2 separate regions of the Homo sapiens genome follow, and region 2 is linked to region 1. Evidence: fine-mapped expression QTL. Tissue or cell type: thyroid. Region 1 holds a variant in brackets; the other region holds the start of a gene. All regions are shown on one strand. Distances are from middle to middle.

Region 1 (8,101 bases):
CTGCAGACGGCGGGCAGCAAAGCGCAGGCGGGAGAGGAGGCGCGGCAAGGCCCACACTCGCCTCCGCCGGGCCTCCCGCTTACCAGCAGCAGCAGCGCCCCCTGGCGCCTGCCGAGGGCACTGCGCAAGAGAGGTCGGCATTGATTTCAGAAGGGCGCCCGGAAGGACACCTGTCTGGCCCCAGACCGGGCAGGAGCCAGGCCTCGGATTTCTCATCTGTCAGATGACAATGATGCTATCTACTTCCCAGGGCCATCGTTCAGATTAAATGATGCAGTGCTTGGGAGAATCCGGATGGATGAGCGACACTATAGAAACATGACTTGGATTTATGGCAAGAGGGACTTCAGTGAGACATGAAGAACTGTTGACTAGACAGGCCGGCAGGACACTGTGGCAGGTTTCCCGTGAAGAATTCCATACTGACAATGTAAAAGAGAGGCAATGACCGTCTGATATAAGTGCGTGACACTGCACAGGTTTCACTGTGTGAAATGCATACATGAGTTCTTGTAGAAATGAATTGATTTTTTTAAGAAGTGACTTAAGGGAAGGAAGACGTGACTTAAGGAACTCAGGAAGTCTCTGTGCCGTCACTAAGTCAGAGATTCCAGAAGATTCTCTCTGAAGAACAGTCACCAACTGGATTATTGAAAATTAGCCCACTGCCACCTCACGGGTGGGCCTTGTAACCCACATCAGCTGGACCAAGGGGCCTGGAGACGCAATAGCCTGGAAACAGGGTGACCCCAAGGGGCAGGCGGGATGCAAGCACAGAGGAAACAAGAAAATGCTGAAGGAAGCTGCTCAGAAAAGTGGAGGCCAGGTGGCTCTGAAACCCAGGTGTGACCACAGAGGAAAGTGCCCTGAAGGCCAGAGACCCAGCTCCAATTACCAGCTATGTGACAGGGGCACGCCCAGCCCCTTTCCTGATTTTCAGAATTTCCCTATCTGGGAGACGAAGATCATGTCGCCGGGGCCTGCCTGTAATACTTCAAAAAACACAAAAACACTCTATGCACCATGTAGAGGATTATTTTTGTGAACTCCAGGGCAGGGAGCATCAACAGCTCAGAGGCAGCACTGGCATCTGCCTCAAGTGTCCTGCCTTCTCTCCATCCCCAGGCACAAGCAGGGCCCACGAATGCCCAGCATCTGCTCTCCAGTCACTGGTGAAATATGGGTGGCATTCACTGTGTCAGCATTTGGAAATTAGCCCGCCTGTGGTCTGGCTGTTGGCGTCCCTGGGGCTCCCTAACCCACATGGCTACGCAGGCAAAGACAGAAACTCTGGTGCCGCCAGCTTCCGCCCGAGGCGCTTTTCTGCGTGGGGTGCTGACTGAGCAACTGAAGCAGGGCTGCAGCATTCACTGGCAGCTGAGACCCAGGATTGGGGGCCCTAGTGGGGCTGGGGTCAATGGGGATGGTACCATGGAGGGGCATGAGCTGGGACATTTAGAACAGAAAGAGAAACATGCCGAGTGAGGAGGCAAGATGTGAGCAGCAGGGCTAGCGGGTATCCCTGGGACCTCAGACAGAAAGGAAGCTGCAAGGGAGCTTGTACCCAGTGATCACAGGCTCATTTATGGGATAGACCCAGGCAACCTGAAGAAAGGCAGAATCAGAGCAATAGCCAGAGGTGACTGTCGTCAGAAACATACCCCTGCTCCTGGGAGCCACTGCAGAGCGGGATAACTGGGGCTCGCCTCCCTGGTGCAAGCCCAGGAGTGAGGGCCTTGTGATAAGATTTCCAAAAACACCAGCCCCGTGCCCTGCCTGTCGGTAAGCGGCCACCGGAACCCCTCCCAGAAAGATAGATGCAGGCTCCGTGTCTGTAGAAGTTTGTGTCCATTTCCCGCTGAAATGGACTCCTGCCTCTCCACACCCCTAAAACCCAAGCTTCTTCCTGATCTCCAACCCACATCCTAACGGGTGAGGTTGAAGTCTAATTTCCTCTGGCCTTCAGTGAGGATGAGAAAACCAGCCCCTTCATAGATGAGAAAGCAGTTTCAGCCCCCAGCTCTCGGCCGCGCTTCTCCGGTGGCTGCCTATTCCCAGCTTCAGGTCCCAGTGGCCGTGGTCATCCGCGTGGGAAGGGATTTGCCTGCTGTGCGCTGGGTGCCTGGGTCGCACCGCTCATCTTGCTGCAGTGCCATCCTCCCAGTCTCTCCACCCCTTTCCCCACTGCCACAAGATACTTAAGGGGCAACTTTGTAGAAATCCAAATCTGTAAACTCCACAGGCTGGGAAACACCCAGCCAAAGGAGCAGGTGTATCAGTAATAAGGGGAAGAAAATCCGAGTGCGGCACGGGGTTTTCTCCACTCTCTGGCAGCCTCCGTCCCCAGCAGACCTCATCCTGTCTCTTCAGTGGTGAGCATTGCCCAGGCTGGGTGTGAATTCTTATGCACAATGGATTCAAGCAGGACTAGGAGTGAGGAGACCCATGTTGGAAAGGACTCTCAGACCTGGTCCTGGGGAGCGCTCTGGGGGTCTCCTGACTCCCCTTCTCCACTCCCTCTGAGGGGATGGAGTATTGGGAGAGGAAACAGCCCTGTGTCCTACCGCCCCCTCCATCCCCCCCGGGGCTGCCCTAGAAGCAGACTGGGTCGGGGAGCCTGGTTGGTAGGTTAGAACGTGCTCATGCTCTGCCAGTTCGCTGATGTGTCATGCAGCCACTCTTGTACCTGCCATCCCTACTCATCCCCTCACGGGGACCAGAGCTTCTGCAGCATAGGGACTGTGTCATCACACTTCACTAAGGCCAGCACAGCGGGGGCTTCCCAGAGGTCTAAGGTGACCTTAGCCCATGCCTGTGGCTTATCTCTGAACCCGATTCAAGCTCCCCATACTCTGTGCATAATTCATCAGCAGTCCAACACTTCCCTTAACAGCATCCAAATACCCTGATCCCCAAAATGGTCACATGCACTTTCCAGCATGAGACCGGGATTACCCTTATCTCTCTGAATATCTCATCACTGGACTCGGACTCCAAGGGGCCACACACTTCACAGAGTCTTCTCCTGTGAAAAGACCCACAACAGTTATTCACAGTTGCTGAGTTCTGCTGAGCTCTTCAAGGACAAATGGTAGATCTGGATAAAGCCAGAAAGCTCCTGAGAATTTAATCAAGG[G/T]CAACGAACCATGAGACTTCCCCTACGGGTAGTCACCTGAGAGAACTTGGGCTGTTTTAACTCTGCAAAGACAGTATTAACCTGTTGCTTTCAATTGTGTTGGGTTGCATATTTAAATCTGTTCCCTGGGGATATGGTGACACACTGATAGACCCCAATAAATACAATTCCTGAATCCCAGCCAAGAAACACTGGTGTGTGTGCAACTGGAGCAGAGGGAGGGGCAGGGACATTGGGAAATTCTAAATAAATGGAAAAATCTGGCTTGTATTTCAAGGATTATTCAAAAAGAATCTTCCCTTAGAAGCATCAGTGAGTCACACGCATCTAACCAGAATGCAAAGTTTACAAAGCATGGTAATGGCAGAACACAGCACAGGGCAGATACACACATGCAGAGATGGACTCTGTTGCATACTGGGGAACCAATTTTGAAAAGTAACAACAGGCTTCTTCTGAGAGAGGAAATTATTCATCCAAAACAGTGCTGGGAAAATTCAGATTTACATTTTTCCTAGGGCCTTTGAGTTGCATATTTCTGCAATGAGTGAGCTGGATTTGATGAGGCTTTACAATGATTGTTCAAAATTAGTGTTTCAATGCTCTGGTTTTAAATGGAATGCTTTTGGGTTGGGTTTTATATTTGACAGCTAAGGACCTTAATAACAGTTTTTGAGAAGCAACTCCTTAGGGCAGAACATCTTTGGATCCTCAATAGTTTTGAAGCGACCTGTTCTCTGCACTATTTTTGGTTTCTTTCTGCTATTTTTCTAAAAAGAATCCAGGAGTTTCATGTGTAAGAGCATCGTTCTTTTTTCCGTTTGCTCACAGATTCTGACGAGGCAATGGCAAGAAAGGCTGACACTTTGCACATCCTTCACAATCTTCTGCAAGGATGGCTTAGAATCGTCCTGCGTGGAGGAAGGAACAACCTTTGACCTTAAGGTAACTTAAGGTTTGACCTTAAGGTTTATTACTGACTTTTCTTTTTCTTTTTTCTTTTTCTCTCTTTTTTTTTTTTTTTTTTTTTTTTTTTGAGACAAAGTCTCACCCTATCACCCAGGCTTGAGGAGTGCAGTGGCACGATCTCAGCTCACTGCAACCTCCGCCTCCCGGGTTCAAGCAATTCTCATGCCTCAGCCCCCTGAGAAGCTGGGACTACAGGTGTGTGCCACCATGCCTGGCTAATTTTCAAATTTTTAGACAGATGAGGTTTTTCCATGTTGGCCAGGCTGGTCTTGAAATCTTGACCTCAGATGAGCCTCAGCCACCAAAAGTGCTGGGATTACAGGTGTAAGCCACTGCACCAGGCCTATTGTTGACTTTTCTAGGGGTCTATCTTTTATATGTCTCTACACTAATTTTTTTCTTCAGCATTTTTTGAAGATGTTTGTTTTTGTTGTTTTCTTTTTCCAATTTCTGCACACCCTGCTTGTTCATGATGATTTCTGAACCACATAATCGAGCCAACCACTTTTTGCTATTTCACAGCAGTACTAATACTATTCCTGAACCATATATATTTCAGGAGAAAGAGCAGATTGGGAAAGCCTAGGCCCTTTTCTGTATACTTTTGGCTTGAGCCTAGGTCATCACAGTCTTGAATGTGGGAGGGTGAGTGGAAGGAAAAGGGTCTGTGCCATTCAAAGTGTGCTCTTTTTGCGGACTTTGGGAGTCTCTGGCTCCTGTTTCAGAGCTCCACTTCATCCTCGCCTGTCCCCATCACTCTCTGCAGCTGATTGGCCACCAGACTTTGTGTCTTCTCCCTCTTGGTAATCTCCTCCCTGATTACCCGGCCGTGGTCTTACCCTACTCTAGTCCACCTTGCACTGTGCAGGCAGAGCAACTCTTCCACAATGTAAATAAGATCTTACCCCGGTTCTCACCACCTTCCGGACACTGCCCAAGTTCCTCAGCATCACATACTAGGTCCTTCATCGTGGCACCCTGCAGCTTCCCTCACCCCTCCCCTGGCCACCCACCCTCAGCCACACCAGCCTGGTATTCCCTGTGTAAGTCATGCTCTCTCTCATTCTTGCATATTTTTGTAAATGCCATTTCCTTGTTCTAGAATGTTCTTCCCCCTGCCTCCAGTAGGCCCCTTCCTGCCCACCCAGCGCATTTAGGATCATGCTTCCATGAGGTCCTCTGTAGGAAAAGTATGATGTACTTTTCTGTGCAGGCAGCGATGATACTATGAGCTACATTTCTGTGTCACAGTCCCCACTCATCAGGTATCTCTCCCATTAGCGTGTGAGAGCCTGTTTCCATGCACATAGCCCCTAGCCCAAGTACCTGCCCTCTAGAGCAAAGCATTTCCCAAGCCATTCAGTGGTTTCCCAGGACCTAGCATCCAAAACACAATGAGTTCTAATTACAAGCTTGTTGAAAGGCAAATGAAGAAAAAAACCTGTATGTATAATAATAATAGTCATGAGAAAGACAAGAATGAAGAGAAGAAAGACAATAGTCATCACTGGCATCTTAAATTATGGAGCCAAGGGGAGAAACATTTGGGTCACCCTCAGGATCAAACTGCCAGGCCAGAAGCAATTCCACTGAGAGGGCACCAGGAAGCCTTCAATGCATGGAAACCCTGGAGCAAGTAAAAGGCAAAGCATGTGAGTCACAGCTGAATCCCTGGACAATCACTGAGCTGTGACAAGGTGCAGGGTAGACTCATAACCTAGCACAGAAAAACACATTACTGAGGAAAGGAAAAGAACGTGAATGGGGAATTTTGAGACTTAGCTCTTCACAGAAAAGCATGCTTGGCAATTACAAACTTCTTATATTAAAAAAAATCAGGCAAACCAAAAGTCATTAAAGCATTAAAGATTAAGACCCACTCACAAGGAATTCACATACTCTGCTTCTTTACAAGGGCAGTCTTGCACCTACACTGACTTGGTGCACCTCCTTACACAGAAGAAATCCACCTTCATGACTTGAGTATAAAAAAATGCTTTTCTGATGGCCCATACGTTCCCAGATATCTCCACCCCATCATGCTCTTAAAAGCTGAAGCTGACTTAGTGAGAATCCATTTACACTAAACAGTGTAGAGTAAGACAACACAAGCCAAGCCCATGACTGAAGGGAGCCCACAAAGACTGGGCAGCTCCTCCAATGTAACCGAAGATTCAACCAAAGATTCTAACTGCCCTCCAGCCCCAGGGCTACGGAATGGCCCAGGGAAGGCAGCGTGCAGCTCGCAACTAATAATCCAGGTACAACCAGCAGATCAAAAGCATCCAGTGAGTGGCTCTGCCAAGTCCCTGTCCATAAAAGGTCCATAGCACAATCACTATGTTTTGCTCCATTTTGTAAGCCCAGCTAAAAGGAGAAAAATTCAATCATTTTTCCTAAAGATTGCTGGTTGCGAAAGACCAACTCCTTTTAAGCGTCTATGCACCAAATCTGTAAGATACAGATATTGGGAGAAGGGGCTCCATACCTGTTCAGAGCAGAGATAAACAGTTGGCATTCACTGGTATAGAGCAATTGTCACAACAGTCATTAGGAAGCTGAACAAATGTTGAGAAATCCAAATGTATCCATTCAGAATGGTGCAAAATTCCTATAAAGTCCTACATCAGAAAATGAAAGAAAGACATTTGGGTGAAGGTAATCAAAATGTCTGGCTAACTCTTGCCTTTTCCTGATATATGTTTTCCATAATAGACCCCACTAGCACCTTGATCCTCTACCTTAAAGATGGAAACGGCTTGGCAGAGGTTGTGTTACTAGGCAAGGTCTTGCTACAATTGAAAGGATGCCACCAGAGATGAAAACCCTACATACATCTCTGCCACCAAAAGAAGACTTTGGAATCAGGCATGATGCAACCAAAGATTCTTACTGCCCTCCAGCCCCAGGGCTGCGGAGTGACCCAGGGAAGGCAAGATGCAGCACACAGCTAATAATCCACATGTAACCAGCACACCAAAAGCATCCAGTGAGTGAGTTAAAACCATGCTTCTATCTATCCCCCAGGAGTGGACAGACAAGTCTGCCTAGATTTGAGGCGGGGAAAAGAGGTCTAAATTTTCACAAGAATTAACTTCTTTTTCCTACAAAGAGACAATGAGGTGTTTCTCCTCTTACCTCATGGATTGCTGGAGTAAATGTAGAAACAAAAACTCATTTTCTTGGTCTCCAAGAAAGCAACCAGATTCTCGATGTGAGCAAGTCCCTGCACCTTTGATGCAAGAGTTTGGATATGCTAGGTGAGGGTACCCGAGGCCCTGTTGATTTTATGAGTCTGTGGGCCAGCTCAGACCGGCTGCCAACTCATCTGTATGCAACAGTTCTCAAAGAACATAGTTTACTTTATAACCGGATCCAACAAGAGTAGGCGTGGCAGTTAAGTGAGTGAGATACCAAAGGTGTTGAGCTACCAAGGCTAACTAAGAAGGATTTGTTTATGGAACCCTGGCTTGGAACCAGAAGGCCGGTATGCTCATGTCGATGTGTCTAAGTCAAAGGCATGAAGTTGAACACGTGCGCACATGAGGCTGGATGTTACAGGGCAGGGAAGTAGGGGTCCCCAAGGAGCCCCTCACAAATGTCTCCTGTCCTGTGAATCACTCAGTGGCCCTAGAACAGCAGTCCCCAACCTTTTTGGCACCAGGGACCAGTTTCATGGGAGACATTTTTTCCATGGACCAGGGAGGTGGTGGGGGAGGATGGTTTCGAGATGATTCAAACACATGACATTTATTGTGAACTTTGTTTCTACTGTGTTTACTTATAATAATTACTTTACTTCTATTATATTCTATTATATTCCTTATTTCATTATATATTATATTCTAATATATAATGAAATAATATTCTATTACATTATATAATATTCTATTCTATTCTATAATATTATAGAATGAAATAATGAATATGGGATGAAATAATGAAATATTCTATTCTATTATAGAAGGAAATAATATTCTATTCTATTCTATGAAA
Region 2 (8,101 bases), 43 kb after region 1:
GATTGAGTTCTCCTCTTCCTGCCGGGCCGCCTGCCTTTGTTGTCCTGAGGACTGACAGGTAATGTTTGTGGCAGACCTGTTGGTGCAAACAGGGAGGCTGTGAGAGGAATTCAGTGGCACTACCACAACTCTTAACAGCACTCTCAGCCTAACTCACAACGCAGCCCAACATGTCCATGGGCAGAAAAGGCCTCTCTCCGACTCCCTAGCCCAGAAATACGAACCGGCAGCTGACAGACTGAATCTGACTCACACATAGATTCTCTATGGCTTGCTCACTTTTTCAAAAATTGTTGAATTAGTGGTCAACATGGAAAAAAAATTTCATCTTCAAAAGTTTAATTTCTGGCTTTTCTGGAAAAAGCAAAGGGAGGATCTTGCAGTACTGGCTCCACGGCATGGCAAGGCAATAATGAACTAGAGCCGAGTAGCAGCTGCCGCTTTAGAACTGCGTGTGTGTACAGCTCACCACAGTCCCCACCACCCCCTACCATGTCCCCCAAACCCAGGGCAAGTTTTGGTTGCATTTATCATGGGTTTGTATATGTGCTTTTCCTAAAATAAAGAGAATGCAACATTTTAAATGTTTCTCTACATCAAAATATGAAAATGAAGCTCTAAGACATCCCATTTAAATAAAAATAGGAGAAAGCCTACTAATTGCACGTGACCAAGAAGGATGTAGAGTGTGTCTGTGTTGGAAGAACGCGATCCGGCAGCTGCACTCACCTCACACAGCCACAGCCGTGGGTGTAGACGGCAGAGCTCAGCACAGACTCACAGGTTCTGGTTACTATGGCATGCACATCCTGCCCAGCTGAGAAATTCCAGAGTGAGGAGGTGTTACCCTCACTCCTGACAGAGGCAGACCTGCCTTAGATGAAGGAGAATCCAGTGAAGGGGTGTTAAGAATGAAATCAGTGGCTGCTAGTTAGTGGTCTTGTTTCTACTGCGGGGGCCGTTGTCCAAGCAGACCTTCAGAGAGTGACGGGGCACTCTTGGTGATGATGCCAGAATGACAGGTGTTACCTGGGATGCATGGACATCTTATTTCCTGGGAGCAATCAGGGACCTCTGGGGGCAAGTATTGTGCTTAGAAACACCGAGGAGCAGCTGTTAGATGAGTAGGGAGCATGCTGGAGGGGAGCAGGAGGGAGAGGGAGAACACAGCCCTGGCTGGCGGGAAGTGACCCGAGCTGCCGGGCAGCTTGTGCACAGCGGACCACATGGCAGGAAATCATGAGTTCCTTCCCTGGTGCTCCCCCCGGGACTCAGAACAACCCCATCACACCCAGAGGGCTCAGGAGGAACCAACCTCCCAGGCAGCGGTGGCTGCACTTAGAGCCTTTGGAATCAGACAAAACCTAGCCCGCTGCTTAGTAACTGTGTGGCCTGAAGCAAGCTACCACATCACTCTGCTTTTGTGACCTGTAAAATGAGGCGACTAAAACGGACTTAATAGATCTGTTTCAGGATTAAATGATACAATGCATGAAAAACACTCAGCACAAAGATGGCACAGAACAGGGATTCCATGCTGGAGCTATTATTACTGTTTGCTCCCCTGTTCTCAGGCCCACAAGGCTCTGCCACCTCACCCTGCTCACTGGACGCCTTCCTCACCAGGGCCTTCCTGACTCTTCCTCGCCCACCCCAGACAAGCCAAATTCAGGACTGCACCCTGGCCTCTCTCTCACTCTCTACTGCACTGATTTTTTTTGCCTGTGTACTCCCCACCAGACCAGGAACTCCTTGCGGACAGAGAACGCATCAAGGGTCGTCAATCTCATTACCTGTTGGAGTCACCTGGGGCCAGATTCTGGGACTAGGCATCAGCACGTTGTCCAGCTCCCAGCTGATGGCAGCGTGCGTCCAGGGCGGAGAGGTCGTGCTACTCAGGTGTGCACTGAGGACCAGCCGCGTCAACATCACTGCGGCTTCTTAGCAAAACCGCGGACTCTGGAAACCCCAGACCTACAGAATCAGAACCCGCATTTTAGCCAGATCCCCAGGAAGGGAAAGCACAGGAACGAATGCCAGTGAAGTGTGAGTCGACCTCCTTCTATCCCCAGAGCTCAACATAATTCAAACACCCAGTGGGTGTTGAGTGGGGGTTCGCTGACTAATTGACTGAGTGAGTGAAGCCCTGTGTCAGCTTCCACTGGGATTTCACACCTACTCCATCATGTGCTATGAAACAAACAGGCTCAAAAAGCAAACCCGTAAAACGTTCAGAAATTCAAAAATAGACACAGACCTAAGTTGATAGAACAAATAGCTGCAAAATGGTGCGGTTTTTAAATGAAATACCTGACGGGTTTTTAAAGATTTATTACCACCGGGCTCTGTGCCATTAAACCTCCGAGTACACTAGAGGATAATTTTGTTTTGTTTTAAGGTTGGTAATTGTGAAAAGCTGGGAAACCAGGACTGGCCCCTGGGAGGATCCTGTCCACCGGTGTGGCTTGGGCACAGTCTCTGGGTGGCTGGGGCCGCTGGCCCGCCCTTCCTCCAGGAAGAGAGACCCGCTGGCGGGGAGTCCCCGGCACTGCCAACGGCCTCCCCACGCCCGTTCCCTGGGGACAGGGCCTCTGTCTCCCCTCCGCAGGCCCCTCCTGGCTCTCACCCTCCCACCCCGCATCCCCCAGCCCCGCCTCCTCCGCAGCCGCAGAGCTGCAGCTGGCCAGGGGGCCACACCCAGGCGTCGAGCACCGCCTTATCCAGCCGCACTGGGGGCTTCGTCCCCTGCGGGGTGAGGGGTCTCCCCTGTGTCACCCTCCGAGGCCACGCTAGACGTTGTGGCGCTCAGGGCTCCCGGTTCCTGCCGCGCTGGGGCTCCCCCGTCCCAGCCTCCCTCCCCACCTCTCCCAGGCTCCCCTCCCCTGTCGCAGCCACCCTCCCCCGTCCCAACCTCCTCCCCTTCTCTCGCACGATCCGGCCAAGAGATGGCGGGGTGGCGGGAGGGGCGCTCTGGCGACCCCGGAAGCGAGAAGCAGGCCTCTGCAGGGCCAGGGATGAAGGTGCAAGGGAAAGCCCTGGGACCTGGACCTTAGGCGTGGGAGGGACGAAAGGGAAAGGTCTTAGAAAATTCCTCAGGCGTGGCTTCTGGGGGGGCGGGGCGGGGGGAGGAAAGGGGCACGGGTTCCCGGTCTCGTAGACGCTGCAGCGGAGCAGAGCCTCTAGGCATGCCCTCATCTAGAGCAGCTGCTGCGGAATCCGGGGAGCCTGCAGCACTAGCCGTGCGATTCCGGGCGAGGTTTTTAAACTCTCACCTGTTTTCCCCTTTTGTAAACTGAAGATAATGCCTCTCTCCCGGGAGTGGGAGCACGATGCTGACACACCGTAGGAACTCGGGACTTGCTGATTCTCCTTCCTTATCCTCAAGGCGTTTGAAGCACTCCTGCCCCTCACCCCCACCCCTCCAGCCCCTTTCCCAGCCCTGCCCCCTGGTGGAAAATCCTAAGAGCTACCTCTCAGGAGGGCTCCTGTAAACCAGGCACTGTACACACACCTTTCATTTCATCTTCGCAGCAGCTCTTTTTGGTGAGTACTGTTATCCCCATTTTGCAAATAAAGCAACGGAAGCTTAGAGAAGTAACTTTTCCAAATGTGCCTCAGCTCCAGGCAAAATAGGAACCTAGGTCATCTGATGCCAGAGTCAGCCTTCCTAACTGTTTATGATCCGACTTCCCTTTCTGTACTGGATTTTCTATTTCTGCCATAACAGATGACCACAGACATAGTGGCTGGAAACAGCACCCACTTATCAGCTCACAGTTCTGTAGGTCAGAAGTCCAGGCTTGATGCGACTGTGTCCTCTGCTCTGTTCCCACAAGGCCAAAACCAGGGTGTCAGCGAGGCCAGCATTCTCATGTGGAACTCAGGGCCCCCTTCAAGCTCCTGTGGTTCTGGCAGAATTCAGGTCTTTGTGGTTGTAGGACTGAGGTCCTCACTTTTTTGCTGGCTATCATCTGGGGGCTGCTCTCAGCTCCCAGAGGTCACCCACATTCCTTGCCGTGTGGCCCCCTCCATCTTTAAAACCAGCAAAGGAGAAGCCCCCTCTGTCTAATTCCTCTAATAATTTGAATCTCTTACTTCGGGAAAAGCCCAATCCCTTCAAAGGGCTTGTGATTGGGTCAAGCTCACCCCAGATGAACTTTCTTTCTTCAGTTCAGCTCTGCCATATGACATGCCCCAGTCATGGGAGTGAGGATTTCCTGGGGTTCCTCAGGGGGTGTATACCAGGGGGCAGGAATCACGAGGGTGTGTTGGAATTCTGCCTACTTACAAGTGCCTTCTCTGTCCCCAGCATGTATTCTGGTGTTACATTCAAGTGTAACACCTCGAATGCTTCCTGCTAACCCTAAAGGGCCTTGAGGGGACTGGGGCAGCCTGTTCACCAACCAGTTTGGAGCATTTTCCTATGAGTACAGTCATATATATTCCCACAGAAGAGTATACAAATATCTCCATATGAGACATAAGCACGCCCTCCTCCATTCCTCTTCCTCCAACTTCATCCCGTGTTTCAAAGCTCAGAGAGTGGTACATTTTGATCCAGCATATCTTAGAAAGTAGGAAATTGATAAAGATGCTTGTGATCACAGATAGGGAGACTGAGTCTGTGAAAAGACTCCCAAGCCAGTGGTCTCTCCAGGAAGCCCTGCTGACCCCCAAGCAAGGCTCTTACCAAGTTGTTAGGGCCCTGACTCCTGACATTCTAGACCACGCCATGACACCAAGTTTTCCTCCCTGTGGGTGCGTGATGTTTGACATTCTTCATTCAGAGGTCCATCTAAATGGATGTCACATTCACTAACGCATCATCTGAAATACAACTTCCTTTGATTTTGCCTCTTTTGAGTCTTTCTCCACTTGTGTTTTCCTATCAAAGGGATTAAACCACTTTGCTGGACTTGAAGCTCTGTCTTTTCCAAAAGCTTTCATCATGTCTCAACACAGCTTCCCATTCACAGACACAGGAGAGGATGGAAGAAGAGAAGTATCAGGCTTGATGAGGCTTAATAGGATTTGCTCAAGTCAGTGCCTTTCCCTGCGTCCTGCAGAGAGTAGCTAGGATGCTCAGCTTACCTAGGCCAGCCACAGCATTCCTCCCTGTCTGTCCTCTACAGACAGTTCTGCAAAAACCCTAGCTTCAAAGAGGAAATGCTAGAATATCAACTATGGGAGGGCTGGCTCTGCGTTTATCTTCTTCACTGCTTTATGTCCAGCTCCTAGCACAGGGGTTTGGCTATAGTAGTTCCTCAATTAATGTGTGCTTAATGAGTGCATAATTAATAGAACGGATCTCGAAAACCTGATTAAAGAATTTCATCTCCATTGTCCCTGAAAATCCTTTTGACTTGATAGGCACACAACACTGGAAGCCAGGGTTTCAAGGATGGGGATTTTACTTACCCTTAAAAGAAATCTAAACAGTAGAGGCTGCATGCTGGTCAGCTCAATGCTTGCCCTGCAAATTGCCCACTGGGCCTTTAGCTATTTGTCTTAGATAATCTCTACCTCTCTTTCTTCATCTTTAAAATGGGGTTAATGGGATATTGCATTAAATTTCAATTTGAGGAGAGATTATGAATACGTATGTTTATTTTATTTATACTTATGTTTGTATCATGTATTCTTTCCATGAATCCCTACAATTGGCTCCCAGGGCTGGAGGAGCAGAGGATATTATCTGGGATTTATAGCAGAGTAAACTGAGGCAAAGAAAGTTAAGTTTGTTTGTATTTGGACCACAAAGCTGGTTTGTTGGACACTGAGTCAGAATCCAGATGTTACCCTGGGTTGAGCAAGGGATGACTTCTGCGGATGATTCCAGCGCACAGGAATGCGTCCCAATATCAAATCAAAAGTAAACCACCCTTTCCTATCTGCCAGACGCAAAAAGTTTTCCTATCTGGGCTGAAGTCTCCTAGAAAACATTTTCCCGTTTCTAGTACGGCACAAAGCCTTCGCCTACAAGAATGTATGCAAGTATGTTTAAAAATAAAGAAGGAAACAGTGCAGAAAATCAGCAGCAAGCTGTTTCCCCAAAGAGCTGAGTACAGGAGGATGTGAGCTCCCATGTGCCCCGGCCAATGACTCATTCTTGTGGCACTGTGCCTGCCCTGCCCAACCTCAGTGGCTCAGGGAGTCCGCAGCGGCACCCCCATTGGAAGCCTATCTTGGTTCCAACAGCTGGGGTGTCCAGAATACACGGGGCCTCGGGACAGCAGCATTTTCCATCATCTCTGAGCATCTGTGATTGAGTTTTCAGGATGAAGTCTCCCACTTAAGGCAGAGCAAATTCCTGCTTGGGATTCTGCAAAGATAGCCCCAAGCATTTTCCTCCTTGTCTCATTTATCCTTGTTAACTGCCACATGAAGGAGCAGGAAGCAGGTGGCCCTATGCAGAATGGGAAATGGCCAATGGACATCTGGGACAAAGCCCTTCAGATGACCTTTTGATATGATGTTTTAAAGGTTATCTTGAAATTGCTATAATCACCCAGGCAGCACAGGAAAAGGCCTGCCAGGGTCATCTGACTCCCCAGGACAGCTGGGATCTACCTTGGTTTGCCATTAGGCAGTCAGCTCAGTGGTTGACAGGCCTTTTTCCAGGTTGTTCTACTGGGGACACAGCTTCCCGGTGTTCTGCCTGGTGGAACCTGCAGCTGGAGTCACCCTCAGAATGGTGGCAGGGGAATTCCTGCAAGGGACTGCCCAAACCATCCCCAAATGGGGTCAGTTGAGATTCCAAAGAAGAAATCACCAAGTTCCAAAGCACTTATTAGGGGAACTTACATGTAGAGCGCTGCACTGGTCCTCATGACAGACAGCAAGAAAAGAGGTGCTCCGCTTAAGTATGTCTGCGGCAAGGGCTCTGGGTTATGGAGTTATTTGGCCCAAGGTTGGGCTAATTCCTACATGTTTAGCAACATGTTTAATCTTTCAGTATTTCAGGTAACAACCTAAACAGGGTTTCAGTGCCAGGGAATGTTTCCAGGGCTCAGGCCTGCAGGAAAAGACATGCAGCTGGCCAAGTGACAGAGCAGTCTAGGCATTCTGTGTTTCTCGATCAGGACAGATAAGTAAGTGGGGGTTCCTGGGGGACCCTATACCCGGGAGGGAGGGTAACTGCGAATTCAAGGAAGACTTACTTATAAAGAGGAAGAAGGGTTGAAAGATAGTATCCCTAAGGTGATGTTTCCCAGGGCCAGAAGCTCATAGAACTTTCTGAAGGGAGCAGGTCATCAGCCTTAGCATGAGCCCCGGAGCATCAGTGTCTGCTGGCCGTTGTGTGGTGAGTGCTGTGGGTCAGCCTTTGGGCTGCAGCCAGATAAACCTAGACCCAAAACCTCACTTGGTCACATGCTAAGTGAGCTTCATTCTTCTCTTCTGAAAAATGGGGGGATAATAATGGTATTTATCTAACCATGTTGTGAGGATTAAATCAGCCAATGGATAAAAATTTCCTAGTGCAGTTCCTGGCTTCTGAGTGCTCAGAAATGTTGTCTGTTATTGTTAATTAAAGAGGTCTTTCCCAACTGAATGAGAGTCTTAAAGCTCGTTAAATGGGTTTTGAGGGGACTATCAGACACCTGTATTGCAGGTGTGTGGGTATCTCTTGGAAGTGTGGTAGGCACCCCCACAAACACATTACGCCCTTTGAAGAGCTTTGGGGCCATTAACATCCTGTCCAGTTCCATTTCTTAGAGGACAGGGAATCAAATTTTCTAATGGCGGGCCTACACAGCAATTTGTCATTTTAATAAGCACTCAGATGGCTGCAGACTTCACACTCAGACGGTAGGGGTGACCAATTGACAAATCAGATACATGCTGCCTTTTCCTTTCTGTCTGCTGCTAAAAGACCTCAAGATAAATAGAGACAGCAAGGAATGAAAGAAACAGCACAGGCTTGGGCCAGATGAGCAGGAATCCAAAAATCAGCTCTGCCTGATATTTGGTGGCCTGGGTGTCACTTAACCTCTTTGGAAGCCTGTTTTTTTATTTATCCATCCAATTACTCAGTAAGTACTTTTTGAATACATCCATGTGCCGGGCTGTGTTCTAAGTGCTTGGAATACCAGAGAACAAA

Direction of the effects. Positions count from the first base shown, and alleles are read on the strand shown. Sizes are in standard deviations (SD) of each study's normalised expression.
In carriers of allele G in region 1, the expression in thyroid of the gene that starts at base 3,594 in region 2 tends to be higher than with T alone (moderate effect, 0.63 SD a copy in GTEx).

What was found. PIP is the estimated chance that this variant, and not a neighbour inherited with it, causes the effect.
Region 2: KCNJ5-AS1 starts here. The variant in region 1 is fine-mapped to the expression of KCNJ5-AS1 in thyroid (GTEx, PIP above 0.99).

What each region holds. Positions count from the first base shown.
Region 1 is chr11:128,859,930-128,868,030 of GRCh38, forward strand. It overlaps KCNJ1 (potassium inwardly rectifying channel subfamily J member 1), which reads right to left and starts at 7,367. Exons shown (of 3, transcript NM_153766.3): 1 at 7,244-7,367. LOC107984409 (a long non-coding RNA gene) reads left to right here. Exons shown (of 3, transcript XR_001748442.2): 2 at 3,968-4,081; 3 at 6,821-7,250. RefSeq lists an enhancer at 1-44 and a silencer at 1-239. The variant G/T (reference allele first, on the strand shown) is at 3,137.
Region 2 is chr11:128,902,638-128,910,738 of GRCh38, forward strand. It overlaps KCNJ5-AS1 (KCNJ5 antisense RNA 1), which reads right to left and starts at 3,594. Exons shown (of 4, transcript NR_045767.1): 1 at 3,512-3,594; 2 at 1,794-1,974; 3 at 730-874; 4 at 1-76. All of the region lies in intron 1 of KCNJ5 (potassium inwardly rectifying channel subfamily J member 5), which reads left to right. RefSeq lists a silencer at 2,459-2,528.